2 separate regions of the Homo sapiens genome follow, and region 2 is linked to region 1. The links come from fine-mapping of genetic effects on gene expression. Tissue or cell type: whole blood. Region 1 holds a variant in brackets; the other region holds the start of a gene. All regions are shown on one strand. Distances are between the middles of the regions.

The links. PIP is the estimated chance that this variant, and not a neighbour inherited with it, causes the effect.
Region 2: PSMC5 starts here. The variant in region 1 is fine-mapped to the expression of PSMC5 in whole blood (TOPMed, PIP 0.93).

The regions. Positions count from the first base shown.
Region 1 is chr17:63,861,131-63,869,231 of GRCh38, forward strand. It overlaps the pseudogene TCAM1P. Among named protein-coding and RNA genes, the nearest start is that of CSH2, 8.5 kb to the right of the region's middle. The variant G/C (reference allele first, on the strand shown) is at 4,606.
Region 2 is chr17:63,823,249-63,831,349 of GRCh38, forward strand. It overlaps PSMC5 (proteasome 26S subunit, ATPase 5), which reads left to right and starts at 4,183. Exons shown (of 12, transcript NM_002805.6): 1 at 4,183-4,266; 2 at 4,890-4,961; 3 at 6,246-6,315; 4 at 6,604-6,701; 5 at 6,885-6,941; 6 at 7,023-7,253; 7 at 7,561-7,687; 8 at 7,788-7,978; 9 at 8,079-8,101. The coding sequence starts at 4,243. FTSJ3 (FtsJ RNA 2'-O-methyltransferase 3) reads right to left here and starts at 4,415. Exons shown (of 21, transcript NM_017647.4): 1 at 3,804-4,415; 2 at 3,588-3,680; 3 at 3,319-3,424; 4 at 3,010-3,056; 5 at 2,808-2,887; 6 at 2,288-2,387; 7 at 1,994-2,188; 8 at 1,800-1,915; 9 at 1,577-1,681; 10 at 1,389-1,489; 11 at 1,083-1,163; 12 at 836-991; 13 at 569-704. The coding sequence starts at 3,654. RefSeq lists enhancers at 3,528-4,727, 3,864-4,143, 4,524-4,573.

The sequences.
Region 1 (8,101 bases):
GCAAGTGGGGAACCAGATGAGGGGAAATTGGGAACATAAAGGAAAGGAGTTAAAGTGATCAGGCAATATTAATTAAGGGTCGATGGCCGAGGAGAACAAAGGAAGTGATAGTGGGAGTTTATGCTGAAAAGGGAAATTTCCAAAAATTCCATATACACATTTCTATTTTGAAGAGTAGAGAAAATAGGCCAGGTGCGGTGGCTTACGCCTGTAATCCCAGCACTTTGGGAGGCTGAGGCGGGTGGATGGCTAGCGGTCAGGAGTTCAAGAGCAGCCTGACCAACATGATGAAACCCTGTCTCTACTAAAAATACAAATATTAGCCAGGCATGATCGTGGGTGCCTGTAATTCCAGCTACTCAGGAGGCTGAGGCAGGAGAATTGCTTGAAACCTGGGAGGCGGAGGTGGCAGTGAGCTGAGATCACGCCACTGCATTCTAGCCTGGATGACAAAGCGAGACTTCGTCTCAAAAAAAAAAAAAAAAAAAAAAGAAAAGAAAAAATCCTCATCTCTGAGTTCACCACTACCTAGCTCCTTACCCACTGAGAAGCAAAGATGGGAAGCAGGGGCCCCAGGGCCACCATGGACAGAGCAGGGTTATCATGTAGTCTGAATCCGTAAAAACACCCTAGGTTTTGGCGGGGCCTGGTGACTCACGCCTGTAATCCCAACACTTTGGAAGGTCAAGGCGGGCGGATCATGAGGTCAAGAGATCGAGACCATCCTGGCCAACATGGTGAAACACCATCTCTACTACAGATACAAAAATTAGCTGGGCATGGGGGCACATGCCTGTAGTCCCAGCTACTCTGGAAACTGAGGCAGGAGAATCGCTTGAACCTGGGAGGTGGAGGTTACAGTGAGCTGAGATCGCGCCACTGTACATACTCCAGCTTGGCGACAGAGCAAGACTCCATCTCAAAACAAACAAACGAACAAAAAAAACACCCTAGGTTTCATCTGGGACTCCCTACCGATAGAGAAGGTGGGAAAGAAGAGTTGGCTCAAAGCAGGGAGCTGCTAGTGCTCCCTTGGGAAGGAAAGCTGTTGGGTGGAGGGGACAGCATTTGGGTGAGGGGAGGAGAGGGAGCAGGGGGTGAAGGTAGGGAGGGAGTGTGGTGCACTGAACTCAGCTCTTTGGGAAACTGTTTTTGCAGGCAAGCCACAGTTAGAGGAATCCAGTTGCCCTGGCAAACAGACCTGGCTGGAAGGGATGGAACACACGCTCGCCTGCGTCCCAAAGGGAAACCCAGCTCCAGCCTTGGTGTGTACCTGGAATGGGGTGGTCTTTGACCTTGAAGTGCCACAGAAGGCAACCTAGAACCACACTGGAACCTACCGCTACACAGCCACTAACCAGCTGGGCTCTGTCAGCAAAGACATTGCTGTCATTGTTCAAGGTAACCTTTGCTGCCCTGCTGCCAGGCCCAGGATGGAAACCCCTCAGGAGTTTGGGATTCTTATCTAAGCATGAAAATAAGAAAGATTCTACTAGGTTGGGAAGAATGAGACTCAGAAGTGGGCCTGGTGGGCTGGGGTGGGTGATCCTTGTACTCTCAGACTTTCCTAACTCTATCTTCTGTGCTTGGGCAGGACTGGATGAAGGAATAAGCTCTACCCTCTTTGTCATTATTACCGTTGCCCTTGGAGTGGGTGTCATCACCATAGCACTGTATTTGAGCTATCGGCCCTGCAAAGTGGACAGGAGGAAATTGCTCTATAGGCAGAAAGAGGAGGACAAAGAGGAGGAAAGCCAGTTTGCTGTTCAGGAAGAGAAAAGTACAACTCATATAATTGACAACTGTTTGATTGAATGAGACTTCTGCTACTGTGGTTTCCCAGGGAGGGAAGAAGGGATAGAGGAGAAAGGAAGAAACACAATGGCAGGCTGCATTCCCCTTTGTGTACGTCTGTCCTGTAAAACGGTGTTTCAGGCCCCCATGCCCCATGTCCTGTGTGTCCAATATGTCCACAAGCTCACCATTCTCTCTCTCTCTCTCTTTTCTTTTCTTTTTCTTTTTCTTTTTTTTTTTTTTTGAGATGGAGTCTTGCTGTTGTCGCCTAGGCTGGAGTGCAATGATGCGATCCTGGCTCACTGCAACTGCAGCCTCCCGGGTTCAGGTGATTCTCCTGCCTCAGCCTCCCTGGCAGCTGGGATTACAGGTGCACACCACCATGCCTGTCTAATTTTTGTACTTTTCGTAGAGATGGGGTTTCACCATGTTGGCTGGGCTGGTCTCAAACTCCTGACCTCAAGTGATCCGGCCACCTTGGCCTCCCAAAGTGCTGGGATTACAGGTGTGAGCCACCGCGCCCAGCCACCTTTCTCTTTAGAGCTCACTCTAGTCATTAAGAATCTCAGTCTCAATGTTTGATTTGTAAGAAGGCCTCTTGCTCCTTGCCAGGTGCTTCATCAGTCCACTCTTAGATACAAAAAAAAGATCCTGCTGTTTCTTTATGGTTTCCACTGCCCTTTTCTCTTAAATATCATACTAAAGTCAGGCACATCTTAGAAATGCAACTCATATTTCATGGTTTTCTGATTACTAACTGGGAACTAAATTTGTAGTCCAGGGACAGGACTTTGAAGGGAGTAAGTATCAAATATGGGGCTAGGAATCAGAGCTCTGTTCCCATCTCCACTTTCCCTTGCTCCCCTGACCTGGGCTTCTGGAGGGCCAGCTCCCAGAGCTGAGCTTGTTGACATCATTAAGGATCAGTGGCAAGCTTCAACTCAGTAACCATCTGTTGTGGGTCTTGGGGGAGTATACAGATGGTAAGAAATTCCACTTTGGGCCAGACAAGCATCCTATCTAGCCCAGTGTTCTGTCTCTGAAGTAGAAGGTAGAGTTCTTCCATGAAATTGGCCTCATAGGTTAAGAGCTCCAAACATCTCTGAATTCCTTTTCATAGAGTGATCAACTGTGAGTTCGCATTTGTCAGTTTTTTTTTTGTACCCATGTGGGTGTCTAGGTTAGAGTTGCAATGTTTACTCTCCCTTTTCATCAATAAGGACATATTTTCTTCTGTCTGTAAGCAATTTCCTTGAAGCTTCAAGAAGAATCCTCTTGTGAAAATGTTCATATGATTTTATGATTCTGCTTCCTTCCCTGTCCTTGGGAAAGAGTATATTCACCCTCAGAGAAGGCGTGAGGAATCACCAAACCAGATCTTTTCTCCCAAATCAGTCAAGAAATGTTCACTGGAATGTTGCTATGGTAAAAATAAAAGTGGTTTTATGATGTCCAAATGCAGTTCCCTTCCCTTCTGTGTCATTGCTGAAACCTCTTATTTATTTATTTATTTATTTATTTATTTATTTTAAGACAGAGTCTTGCTCTGTCGCCCAGGCTGGAGTGCCGTGGCACGATCTCGGCTCACTGCAAGCTCCGCCTCCTGGGTTCACACCATTCTCCTGTCTCAGCCTCCCAAGTAGCTGGGACTACAGGCACATGCCACCATGCCGGGCTAATTTTTTGTATTTTTAGCAGAGACAGGGTTTCACTGTGTTAGCCAGGATGGTCTTGATCTCCTGACTTGATTCGCCCACCTGGGCCTCCCAAAGTGGCTGGATTACAGGCGTGAGCCACTGTGCCTGGCCGCTGAAAGCTCTTATTATGTCAAATGGTTGCATTTTATAACTTTTTCTTTTTTTTTTTTTAGATGGAGTCTCACTCTGTTGCCCAGGCTGGAGTGCAGTGGCGCGATTTCGGCTCACTTCAACCTCCACCTCCCAGTTTCAAGCAATTCTCTGCCTCAGCCTCCCGAGTAGCTGGGATTACAGGCACCCACCGCCATGACCAGCTAATTTTTTGTATTTTTAGTAGAGACAGGGTTTCACCATCTTGACTAGGCTAGTCTTGAAGTCCTGACCTCGCGATCCACCCACCTTGGCCTCCTAAAGTGCTGGTATTACTGGCGTGAGCCACCGCTCTTGGCTGCATTTTATAACTTTAAGTACAATTTCTAAGGAAAAAATACCGTGTTGATAGCATAAACAACCAGCTCAGGGCAGGGGGTGCATTAGCTCAGGGCAGCAGCCTATTTGACCTGCTTTCAAAACTGAAATTCAGGCCGGGGGCAGTGGCTCACGCCTGTAATCCCAGCACTTTGGGAGGCTGAGGCGGGTGAATCACTTGAGCCCCGGAGTTTGCGAATAGCCTGGGCAACATGGCAAAACCCCATTTCTACAAAAAATACAAAACTAGGCCAGGTATACTGGCACGTGCCTGTAGTCCCAGCTACTTGAGAGTCTGAGGTGGGAGGATCACTTGAGCACAGGAGATGGAGGGTTGCAGCAAGTTGAGATCATGCACTGCACTCCAGCCTGGGCGACAGAGCCAGACCCTGTCTCAAAAACAAAACAAAGGAAACAAAAACAAAAACTAAAGTTCAGACTTCCAGATAGAGAGAGGTCCATAGCCTTCCAAATTGCAGATACTAGCTAGAAAAAACCATGGTATCAGACAGCAGAGGGAAAATGTTTTTCCATTCTTCCCAGACCTCCCCTAAGTCTGGTGTTATAGATTAAGTATAAAAATAACCCTTTGGAAGGCCAGGCACGGTGGCTCATGCCTGTAATCCCAGCACTTTCGGAGGCCAAG[G/C]GGGGCGGATCACAAGGTTAGGAGATCGAGACCAGCCTGGCTAACACGGTGAAACCCCGTCTCTACTAAAAATACAAAAAAATTAGCTGGGCATGGTGGTGGACACCTGTAGTCCCAGCTACTCGGGAGGCTGAGTCAGGAGAATGGCGTGAACCCGGGAGGCAGAGCTTGCAGTGAGCCGAGATCGCTCTGCTGCACTCCAGCCTGGGGACAGAGCAAGAGTCCGTCTCCAAAAAAAGAAAAAAGAAAAAAAATAATAAGCTTTTCGTTTCACCACATACAAGGCAGTGGGGATACAGTGGTGAACAAAACATTGTCCCTGGCTTCCACAAATTTATTAGGAAAGCAAGACAAACAAGTATGTAATGAACAAAAAAGTTCATTACATTTGAGCATGAACTCCTATGACTGGGAAAACAGATTGTTAAGAGAAAGCATAACTCGGATCAAGGAAGGCTTCCTGGAGGGACACGAAATATCTTGACTTTGTAAAATAGCATCATCCCGGAACATGACCTTTTCAACCTCAATGTTTCCACTAGGTGGAGCTACTGCTCTCTCATCATGTGAGTCTAATATAAATCATCCACCTTCCCTGAATTGAGCATTTGGGGAAGTAAGTTAAGAAGCAGGTTTAAGAGACAGGAGTATAGAGCTGCCCCATGCAGGGATCCACAGACATTTCGGTGTCAGGATCAGCCACATCAAGGCTATAGTTATCTTGTATCTGCAAACCCTGCCTCATGGCCTCAGTGCCTTGAAGCACAGCGAATCCAAAAAGGAAGGGAAAAATGAGCCAGGCATGCCGGTGTGCACCTGTAATCCCAGCTACTGGGGAGGCTGAGGCAGGAGAATCGCTTGAACCTGGGAGGCAGAGTTGCAGTGAGCCGAGATCGTGCCATTGCACTCCAGCCTGGGCAACAGAGTGACACCCCATCTTGAAGAAAACAAAAACAAAAGCAAACAAACAAAAAACAAGACAAAACCAAAAAAAGAGGGAAGAAGGGGGCCACTTGGACTTTCTAGTTCCAGCAGGGAGATCCTGGAGGCTCAACCGGCTGCTGCCTTTGCTTCTCACTGCCACAGGGTGTCAGTGTGGACAGATGGTCCCACACAGTACCCTCAAACCAAGCGGGTCTGCAGATCTGGGTTCCTACCTGCTGTGGATCTCTGAGGGAGGATGATCTGCTTCTTCGGGGCCTGGTCCAGCAGCGGGTGTCCTCTTGCTGGGGTTTCCAGGGTTCCAGTTCTTAGAGCTCAGTAGTTTGGATGAGCCGTCCCGCAAAGCTCTTCAGAGTAGGCTGGGCTGTTTCCCTTGTAGACTTGGAACCTCTGTTCGCTTTCCTTCCCGAAGGATCCACACAACCAGTGGTCAGGCAGGCAGCCCCTTCTCATTGATTCTTTTTTTTCTTTTCTTTTTATTTTTTTTGGAGACAGAGTCTCGCTCTGTCTCCCAGGCTGGAGTGCAGTGGCGCAATCTCGGCTCACTGCAACTTCTGCTTCCCGGCTTCAAGCAATTTTCCCTTCTCAACCTCTAGAGTAGCTGGGATTACAGGTGTCTGCCACCACACCCGGCTAATTTTTGTGTTATTAGTAGAGACAGGGTTTCATCATGTTGGCCAGGCTGGTCTCAAACTCCTGACCTCAGGTGATCTGCCCACCTTGGCCTCCCAATGTGCTGGGAGTACAGGCGTGAGTCACCACGCCTGGCTTCATTGATTCTGAAAGCAGGAAGGGTCTCATATCTCTTTTCCAGTATGATAGAGCTTCTAAGGGTAGCTGCCTCATTGTCTATAGGAGGAGGCCCCACCCCTAAATGATTTTGATCATATTCTTTCTGAACATTAAAGCAACCAGCTCACGCTTAAATTGCAGGTATCTTGATTATCTCCAGAGGAAGAGTGGCCTTTAATACTCCAAAATTTTATCCTCTTTCTTATTATTTTTGAGAGAGAATCTTGCTCAGCCACCCAGCTGGAGTGCAGTGGCATGATGGGCTCAGCGCAACTCTGCCTCCCGGGCTCAAGCGATTCTCGTGCCTCAGTAGCTGGGAATACAGGTGTGCACCACCACACCTGGCTAATTTTTGTATTTTTAGTAGAGACGGGGTGCCATCATTTTGGCCAGGCTTGTCTTGAACTCCTGATCTCCTCCCGCCTCGGCCTCCCAAAGTGCTGAGATTACTGGCTTGAGCCACTGTGCCTGGCAGTTTATCCTCTCAAGGATGGTCAGGGTGACATTCTGGCGTCTTTGTCTTTAGACCTGAGAAAGAGTAAGTTACATCTTTAGTGGGACTTCTTACCATAGGATTAATAATAGTATTTACCTTAGAAGATTATACTTAGAAAGAAATGACATAATACTTGCAATAAACTAGCATGTTGCTGGAGACATGTGTTTACATTTGTTGGTTTTTGTGATTACACTGATAATTCTGGTGGTAATTAAGCACATCATTATAATCACAGTAAACTCAAAGCAAGAATCAGAAATCCATGGTAACCTTGAGCACCATCAAAAGTCATATACACCGTGTGCAGCTTTCTGATTTTTCTACTCTTTTTCTTGCTCCTTCCCCTACTTTCCCCCCAGTTTGGTCCCCTAAGATTTAGGACTACTAATAGGGTGACCAGTCCTGTGAGCTGAGTTTGCATTGAGCTGAGGGATTCCTGGAAGGAATGTGGGACTTCCAGTGTTGACATTGAGAAAGTCTCCTGCAAACCAGGACGAGTTGGTGACCCTAATCCCAGCGGTGCTCATTGTGTGCCTCAGCACTCCAGGGCCTTCTGAATTAAAGAAGCATCCAGGCAAAGTGTCAGCTTGTCTTGGCCTAGAAGCCCAGACCCTATAATTCAGAAGAAAAGGGAAGGGGTCAGTTCTGCTCTCAACTGTGTATAAAGGGACAAAACCCACCATGTGTATTTGGACAATGCTCATGGAAGAAATTCAGAAGTGGTCATTTTAGGTTAGGGTAAATTCAAAAAAAATGACAGAGTCAGTAAAACATTATGCCAGGGGTCAAGGATGACTGGAGCTCTGCCTGCTGAACTCTTCCTTGTGTGAGTCTTGCTAATCTTATCTTCAGGAAGAGTTTTCATTAGAAAATACCAATAAGAGCCAGGCCTGGTGGCTCCCGCCTGTAATCCTATCACTTTGGGAGGCCAAGAAGGGTGGATCACCTGAGGCCAGGAGTTTGAGACCAGCCTGGCCAACATGGCGAAACCCTGTCTTTACCAAAAATACAAACATCTGCCCTGTGTGGTGGTGCACGCTTATAATCCCAGCTACTCAGGAGGCTGAGGCATGAGAATCACTTGAACCCGGGAGGAGGCGGAGGTTGCAGTGAGCCAAGATCCCACCACTGCACTCCAGCCTCTGTCTCAAAAACAAAAACAAAAATAAAGTATTAACAATTTTTAGTTGTGAGAAGATATAAACGTTTCCATCTTAACCATTTTACGTGTACAGTTCAGTCATGTCAAGTACATTGACATCG
Region 2 (8,101 bases), 38 kb before region 1:
CTGGCAGCATCTACTATAACCTAAGTTCTTTTCTGATGTTCTAGTTCTTCAAGAATAAATCTATCAGCCGGGCGCGGTGGCTCACGCCTGTAATCCCAGCACTTTGGGAGGCCGAGGTGGGCAGATCACGAGGTCAGGAGGTCGAGACCATCCTGGCTAACACGGTGAAACCCCGTCTCTACTAAAAATACAAAAAATTAGCCAGGCGTGGTGGTAGGCGCCTGTTGTCCCAGCTACTCGGGAGGCTGAGGCAGGAGAATGGTGTGAACCTGGAAGGTGGAGCTTGCAGTGGGCCGAGATCGTGCCACTGCACTCCAGCCTGGGCAACAGAGCAAGACTCCGTCTCAAAAAAAAAAAAAATAAATCTATCACACTCATCTATCTACCTAACTCATCCTTTTTGGTTTATGTTTCTTTGTGGCCTTATACTCACCAAGGCACCCTGTGGTGAAGACAGCAACCACAGCCTATCGTTCGGCAACCTAAAAAGACATTCAACACCCCCCACCTCCAAACACCCAAACAGATCCTTCTGTCTCCTAAACCTGCACCCCCAATGCCGCCTCACCTGGTGACCCCGGATGGTGCTCAAGGAGAACATGCCAGTCTCCCCCTCGTCTGCAATGGAAACCCCAGGCAGATCCATCTTCAGCTCCACACGCTCCCGCTGCTTTCTCTGCTCACGCAACAGCTTCTTTTTCTTCCTGAGGGGGTGGATTGAGGGAGTAAAACCGGCCCAGCTCCAAAGTTTCTATCCATGCCTTGCATTTTCTTCTCCCATCTTCACACAGTCCCTGCGTTGGGGAACTCCAAGCTCTACCCCAGCTCCTTTCACCTCTTCAATTCCGCCACCTCCTGGGCCTTCATTTCTGCCAAGGTCTGGTTCAGTTGTTCCTCCTCCTCCTCTTCCTCCTCCTCCTTAGAGGGCTGCTTTGTGGTTCCAGCTGTTGAGTCCTCCTCATCACCTTCATCTTCCTCTCCAGAGCTGAGGCTGGCAAAACAGTCCCAAGAGTTGGGTTATTTTCCCAGACTTTTCCCCTGGACACCCAGTCCACACCTGCCTCGCTGCGTTCTCTCCTCACCTGATGTCCAGTGCCTTTGCTTGTTCTTTCAGCTTCTTGGCCACATATCGCCGAAGTTTTGTTCTCCAGTTTAGTAGCGACCTGCCCCAGAGATACTATTACTGATCTTGCCATCTCCCTCTTTGTCCCCGCCCCCTTCTGTTTTAGGCTCACTACCCACCTTTCGGGCTTCGGCTACATAAATCAAAAGGCTCAGGCCCCCATCCCAAACCTTTAGCACAGCAATATCCTCTTCCCAGAGGTCCAACATCATGGCCTTTCCCTGCCTCCAGGGCTCCTGGCCCCCGTGCCTACCCCACTCCATACCTGAGCTCCTTGCGCCCCAACACTCTGATGTCCTGACAGCACACCCGTATGTCCTCAGTGGTAGCTGGATGCTGTGCCAACTCTTCATCATCTACCATGATCTGTTTGGGAGGATGGAAAGGTGTCAGGGGAGATCCTCAGGCCATGTTTCTGGGGCTACCTCATGTCCCTCAAGGCTGGAGACTCACTTCGCTGGCCTTGGAGAGGAAGTCAACAGGGTTGGCAGCTCGGAGGAAGTCAGTGACTGAGGTACGGTGATAGAGAGTGAGGTCACCCTCAGCATAGCCTTCAGCCTTAGGAAGGAAAAGAGAGAAGCTTGGTCAGGCCCTTCTAAGGTACCTGTAGGACCCACCAGGCCCAACCTCCCTAGAGTTCCAGGACCCAAGAGTGACCCCATTCCCCAAAACACACCTTTGGCTTCTTCTTAGTAACCAATTCAGTAACGGTCTTAGCCTGAACTTCAACCTCCTTAAAGGCAAATTTGGGGTCAAAGAATTTACTGTCAACCTTGTCAGGGGCCAGGAATCCTAAAAATGACAGGATATATTAAAAAGTGTGCTTTGGGAGTTGGGAGCCTGGATCAAGAGAAAGGAAATGATGCCCACCTTGGCAGACTACAAAGATCTCTGCAGATTCATGGCGAGAGGCTTGGGGCTTGGTGGCCTGGACACGGCGGAACAGCTGCTGAAAGATCCATAGCAGAGGCTGATAGTCACGAGAACGGAAAACCTTTGTGATGAAGCTGCCACCACGGGCCAAAAAGTCACAAGCCAAACGTAGAGCCATCAGTGTCAAATGGGCTGTAGGATAGAGACAATTAGTTGACGCACTCTGCAGCCCAGGAGGGCATGCGCCCACCTCCACCATCACCTGATCTCCAAGCACCACACTCCCTGTACCTTGTGAGTAAGCATCATGGACCCAGCTAGCCCCAACGTTGGGGGCCCCATCATTGAGCACAACATCAACCTTCCAGGTCTTCAGCTCCTTCCTCAGGGCCTAAAGAGAAGAAAAGGAACTATGGAAACAGAAACACTGGAATGGCCCTGGTTCAGCCATTTGTCCATCTAGTCATTTGCTGAGTGCCCATCATGGGCCAAATGCAGTACCAGGCACAGGAGATACAATAGTAAACAAAAACAGTATGTCTCTACCTTCATGGAGATTACAGTCTGACACTGAATTCACAGGAGAAGACTTCACTAAAGATCTCTGCCCTTCTCCCAATTCCAAACACCTTTATCCCTGACTCTAAATAAAGCCTGGAGTGGACACTACGAATGCCATAGGTCTTGTCGTACAGATGTCAGGCAAGAACGTGCTCAAAGCACGGTAAAAAGGAAAAACTTGCCTTTAGAGGATTTCAGGGATGTAGATGTTTCCGTATAAAGGGGGAAGGAAGAGAGAGACTCCTATTACCTGCCTACAACGTTCTGTTGTGATGTCCTGCTGGAGAGTCACCACATTGGGGAGAGGCTTGATTGGAACCAGGTCCACTCCTGGAAGAAATCAGGTCAGAGTATTCTAAAAGGTTGCTTCAAGCAGGGAGGAGAGAAATACAGGACAAAATACCTTATACACCCACCCCTTAAAACACCAAGGAGAGCTGTCCGTTACTCACCCACAATAAGGCTGGATACAGGCATAAACTTGGCAGCTACCTGCAGCCTATAAAAGGAACAGAAATTTAAAAACCTAGAGCCATCCTTTTCCCCCTCTTGGCAACTGATCTCTCATCCCTGGTGTTACGTGTACTGGCCAAAGCATATCATAGGCACGTATTCCAAGCCCTTTCTCTGCAATCAAGAAAGGAAACGGCCCCCAAGAGGACCGGGATTCGGGTTCCCCTCCCGCAGTGAAACTGGAAGCCATCCCAGCTCAGAACCCAGAAAGCGGCCACCAGGAGCAACCTGTGGCGAGTGTTACGAACCATCCCCCTGGCGCAGCACACAGGTCCAGCAAGGCTCGGGCTTTCTGCAGGAACTGAAAGCGGCGATTGAGCTGGATCAGCTTGAAAGCAGATCGGGAACGGTAACCTGGACAAAACAACCAAGTGCGCAAACTGCTTCACTAGTAGGATTTCTCCGGCCTCGCAACCGACCACCCCTTCTGCAGGAGAGGTACATAATGGTCGCAAAGAGCAGGCGAACCGGGCAGAGATCGCTCGCTCGCTCGCAGACTGAGCGAATCCGGACTCACCCGTCTCCTTCGCCAAGTGATAAAACTTGTCTCGTCGGCTCTTGCCAACTTTGCCCTTCTTGCCCATGGTGGAAAGGGGGAGTATCCCTCAATCTGGGGAGAAAGTAGAAGTTGGGAACGTCTCTTTCCGGAGCACCAGATTCCACTTCCAGTTTCCCACTTCCAGTTTCCCACTTCCCGCAGCAATTCCACCCCGCGCCCCTCTCCGCACACTACCTAGACCCAGAGCCGCTTTCTCCACACTTGGAACCGCACAAGTATGCAGCTAACTACTTCCGCTTCCGCTTGCGTCCCCTGCGTCCCTGGCTCGAGGTTTTCCGCCATTTTGAGTGTGGCCCTAGATTGTTCTCAATACTCTGTCCTTGGGTTTTGTAAGTTGAAAGTTGAGACTAGGAAGGCATATCACAAGAACTATAAACAGAGTTTCAATGAGGCAACACTGAGGAGGAGTTCTACTCCTTCCTCATCCCCTTCCAAAGCCCCTGAACTCGAGTAGCCGCCCCTCCCATCATGGTTCCCTTAGTGTGGTCTCGCCGCACACCCCGCCCATTGACCCGGAATTCTTCTCTGCCTGGTCTTCAGGTCCCAATCCTCCGCTTCCGCGCTTGCGCGCCAAGACGGCTCGGATGCCGGCGGTCTCTGCTGAAGAGAGAAGATGGCGCTTGACGGACCAGAGCAGGTATGGCGGGTGCAGTGGCGGCCCGGCAGGTTACGGGGCTGGGTGCGGAGCGAGCGTGATCTGAGTGGAGAGCGGGCCGGGGCAGGAGCGTCGGGTGGGTCGGAGGTGCCTGGACCAGTCCATGCTGGACGCTGCCTGCGACCGGATCTGCTGTGTCAGCGCCGCCCTCGGTGAGTCAGGGCAAGGCTGGGAGAGGAAGACGCGGTAGAAGCGGAGTGAGTGAGGGAAGCGATGGGCGCGGGAATGGCCGGCCCACGGGTCGCAGGAGACGGGACGCCAGTCCTTTGGCTCCGTTCCGCTGGCTCCTTCGTCAGTACTGACACCTCGGGCTTGTAGAGCACTTCACGCAGTGCAAAGCGCCCCCCGTCTATATCATATCGCCTCTCGGTCCTCCTAAAAGTCGTATGAGGTAGGCGGCGTTCCCATTCTTTTATTTTAGTCCTGGGAAAATGGAGGGTTCCAAGGGAGGGAGGGATTAGAACCCAGATCCTGAGCCTCCGAAGTCCAAACTTTTTCTACTACGCAAAGCTACCTGGTGTCAAGCCTTATTCAAAGTGCCCTGCAAGTGGCTTTACCCCCTCGGATGTTTAACCTGTCGTTTAAGACTCACTCTGTGTCTTCAGATGGAGCTGGAGGAGGGGAAGGCAGGCAGCGGACTCCGCCAATATTATCTGTCCAAGATTGAAGAACTCCAGGTGAGGACGGACTCCAGAGGGAGCTAGGAAGGGTGATGATGGGGGATGGAAACGGACTTCCACAAATCCATCTAATTCCTTTGGGAGTGCAGTGGAAGAAGCTGCTGCTTCTCCTTTCTTGTTTGTTTCTTAGCTAGTAGGGTGTATGTATCAGAAGTAAGCAATCTCTTGTTCTCCTCCAGTCCCATCTCTTTGAGGGTCTTAGTGTTCACAGTTTGTTACACATCTTCGAGTCAAATCTTAATAGTAAAGGTACCTCTAGCCAAAGGTCAACCCTTTTGGAAGAAGCCCGAATGAAAAGGATTCTTATAAAAGGGAAACATAAGCTCAGGAGTTGAAATTTATCACCAAGAGGTTGGGTGAGGGTGAAGTGAGAATGTGAGGAAGGGCATCATTGAGGGATCTGGACAATGCTAATTCCATAGAGACTGAATGAAAGAAATTGGGCAACCCAGAGCCCTAGCCTAAAGCGCTAAACCATAGAAAAAGGACCGTTTATGTTGTTAATCAAATGTTTGTGTTACCAGTAAGGCTTCCAGCAGTAAGGTATGGCTTCCAGTAGTAAGCCTTACAGACAACATAAACAGTAGTCTGTTAGTGTTACGTTATACTGTTACGGTAGGCTGTTAGTAGTTTAACTTTGGACAGGTCCATGGATTTTCAATTTCACCCTAACCCCCTGCGTTGTTCAAGTGTCAACTGTAATATAAATTGGATGGGGGAAAGCCACAAAAGACAATTCTGAATTCCAAGTGCATTTGCAGGTATTATGTTTAGTTTACCATTTTTGAATGCTTTTTCATGTGTTTTTATTCGTTCACCTTAGTAGTCTTGAAGCAGGGTAGCTGATGCTATACCCATGTGCCGTTTGGTAACAGATCTAGATTTTTAAAAATAGATTGTCTTACCTTTACTTTGCTTTTGATTGACAGCGGCTGGGCTAGAACTCAGGTTTCTCACCTAACAATCTTTCCACCAGGTGTTGTTGCCTTCCTGCAAGAAATTTGGTGTTACATGAGCCAGCTGTAACTTTTCTCCATTAGATTCTGTTACTCCTGGACCAGTATTGGACAAGCAGCCTTCTTTGATGGCTGCTGTAAGGTCCAGAGGGACTCTTGAAGGACAGGGCAGGGTCATTAGGATCATACTGGAGAATCTGAAACAACATGCAGGTGCCCTGTGCCCTTCCCTCAGCTCATTCAGACCTGTGAGGTCTTGGCCAAGATCCTACCTCCTCCTGTCTCCTGCCCTTGAATAATGGAATTTGTCTCTTGTCTGCCACAGCTGATTGTGAATGATAAGAGCCAAAACCTCCGGAGGCTGCAGGCACAGAGGAACGAACTAAATGCTAAAGGTGAGTGGAGAAAGATGGGAAGCCGCATGTGGGCAGTTTGTCTGAGGTCTGTCCTTATCTCCCTGCACTGTGTCTTCACAGCAGTGCTTACTGTTTTCTCCCTGTCATCATCTAGTAGTTTCACATGCATCTCTTTTTCCTGAGCCCTATTGTAGCCTCCTTAAATACATGAATTTTGACCTTTGGCCTTCCTTTAATAAGAGTGATGCTTAGCTCATGCACGTAGAATTGGGTCCTGGAGACTCCAAAGGAGTAGCTAGGTGACCACTGTGTCTGTTTGCCATCTAGTTCGCCTATTGCGGGAGGAGCTACAGCTGCTGCAGGAGCAGGGCTCCTATGTGGGGGAAGTAGTCCGGGCCATGGATAAGAAGAAAGTGTTGGTCAAGGTAAAAGCAGCATGACCCCAGGGACCAGCTCGGTCTCCACTGCATTCCCACCCCTTTGTGTGTAGCCTCGGGAGACAGGGTTCTGTGTTCTGTCAAGGTATTGTGGGATTCTCATAGGTCTTCCTGGGTAGGATTAGTGATTTGGTGGCTGTCAAGGAAGGTCATGAGCCCTTGTTTCTTTAGGTACATCCTGAAGGTAAATTTGTTGTAGACGTGGACAAAAACATTGACATCAATGATGTGAGTGTAGCAGGTGAGGTGGTGGTGGTGGTGGGGTCAGCTCTTACTGTACCACTTCTGAAACTCGCCCCCTTCACCCAGGTGACACCCAATTGCCGGGTGGCTCTAAGGAATGACAGCTACACTCTGCACAAGATCCTGCCCAACAAGGTAGACCCATTAGTGTCACTGATGATGGTGGAGAAAGTACCAGATTCAACTTATGAGATGATTGGTGGACTGGACAAACAGATCAAGGAGATCAAAGAAGTGATCGAGCTGCCTGTTAAGCATCCTGAGCTCTTCGAAGCACTGGGCATTGCTCAGCCCAAGGTGAGGAGCAGGGCTTCTCTGAGAGGGCCAAGCTGTACTTACTCCTCCTGCCCCAGCCAGCCCTACTGCAGGGGTTGGGGAGGCACCGGGATAGGCTGCATCTTGCTTGGGCTGGCCCTCCCCCTGAAAAGAGTGGCTGGGGAAGTGTTCCTAGGGCGGTGAGGTGGTTTGGATAGAAGGGACCTTGATGTTCCTTTTTTTTTTTTGTATCCCTAACATCTAGCAAGGGACCCAGCACTCGGTAAATGTTCACTGAATGAAATGAGGGGTGTAGCTTTCTGCCCTGAGTCCTGCTGTTCCCCTGTAGGGAGTGCTGCTGTATGGACCTCCAGGCACTGGGAAGACACTGTTGGCCCGGGCTGTGGCTCATCATACGGACTGTACCTTTATTCGTGTCTCTGGCTCTGAACTGGTACAGAAATTCATAGGGGAAGGTAACCATGGCTAGCAATGTGAGAAGCAAGAGGTAGGGGTAGGGGGTTAGAGAGCTAATAAGCTAATAAGCTCCCTAACACCAGCTCGGCCTCCACACAGGGGCAAGAATGGTGAGGGAGCTGTTTGTCATGGCACGGGAACATGCTCCATCTATCATCTTCATGGACGAAATCGACTCCATCGGCTCCTCGCGGCTGGAGGGGGGTTCTGGAGGGGACAGTGAAGTGCAGCGCACGATGCTGGAGTTGCTCAACCAGCTCGACGGCTTTGAGGCCACCAAGAACATCAAGGTAAGGTGGTAGCATCCTTGGGATGGGCCCAGGGAAGGCCTGGGTGCCACGCAGGCTGAGGAAGAGGTTTAGCTGATCCCCACTTGCTTTCTCTGCTCAGGTTATCATGGCTACTAATAGGAT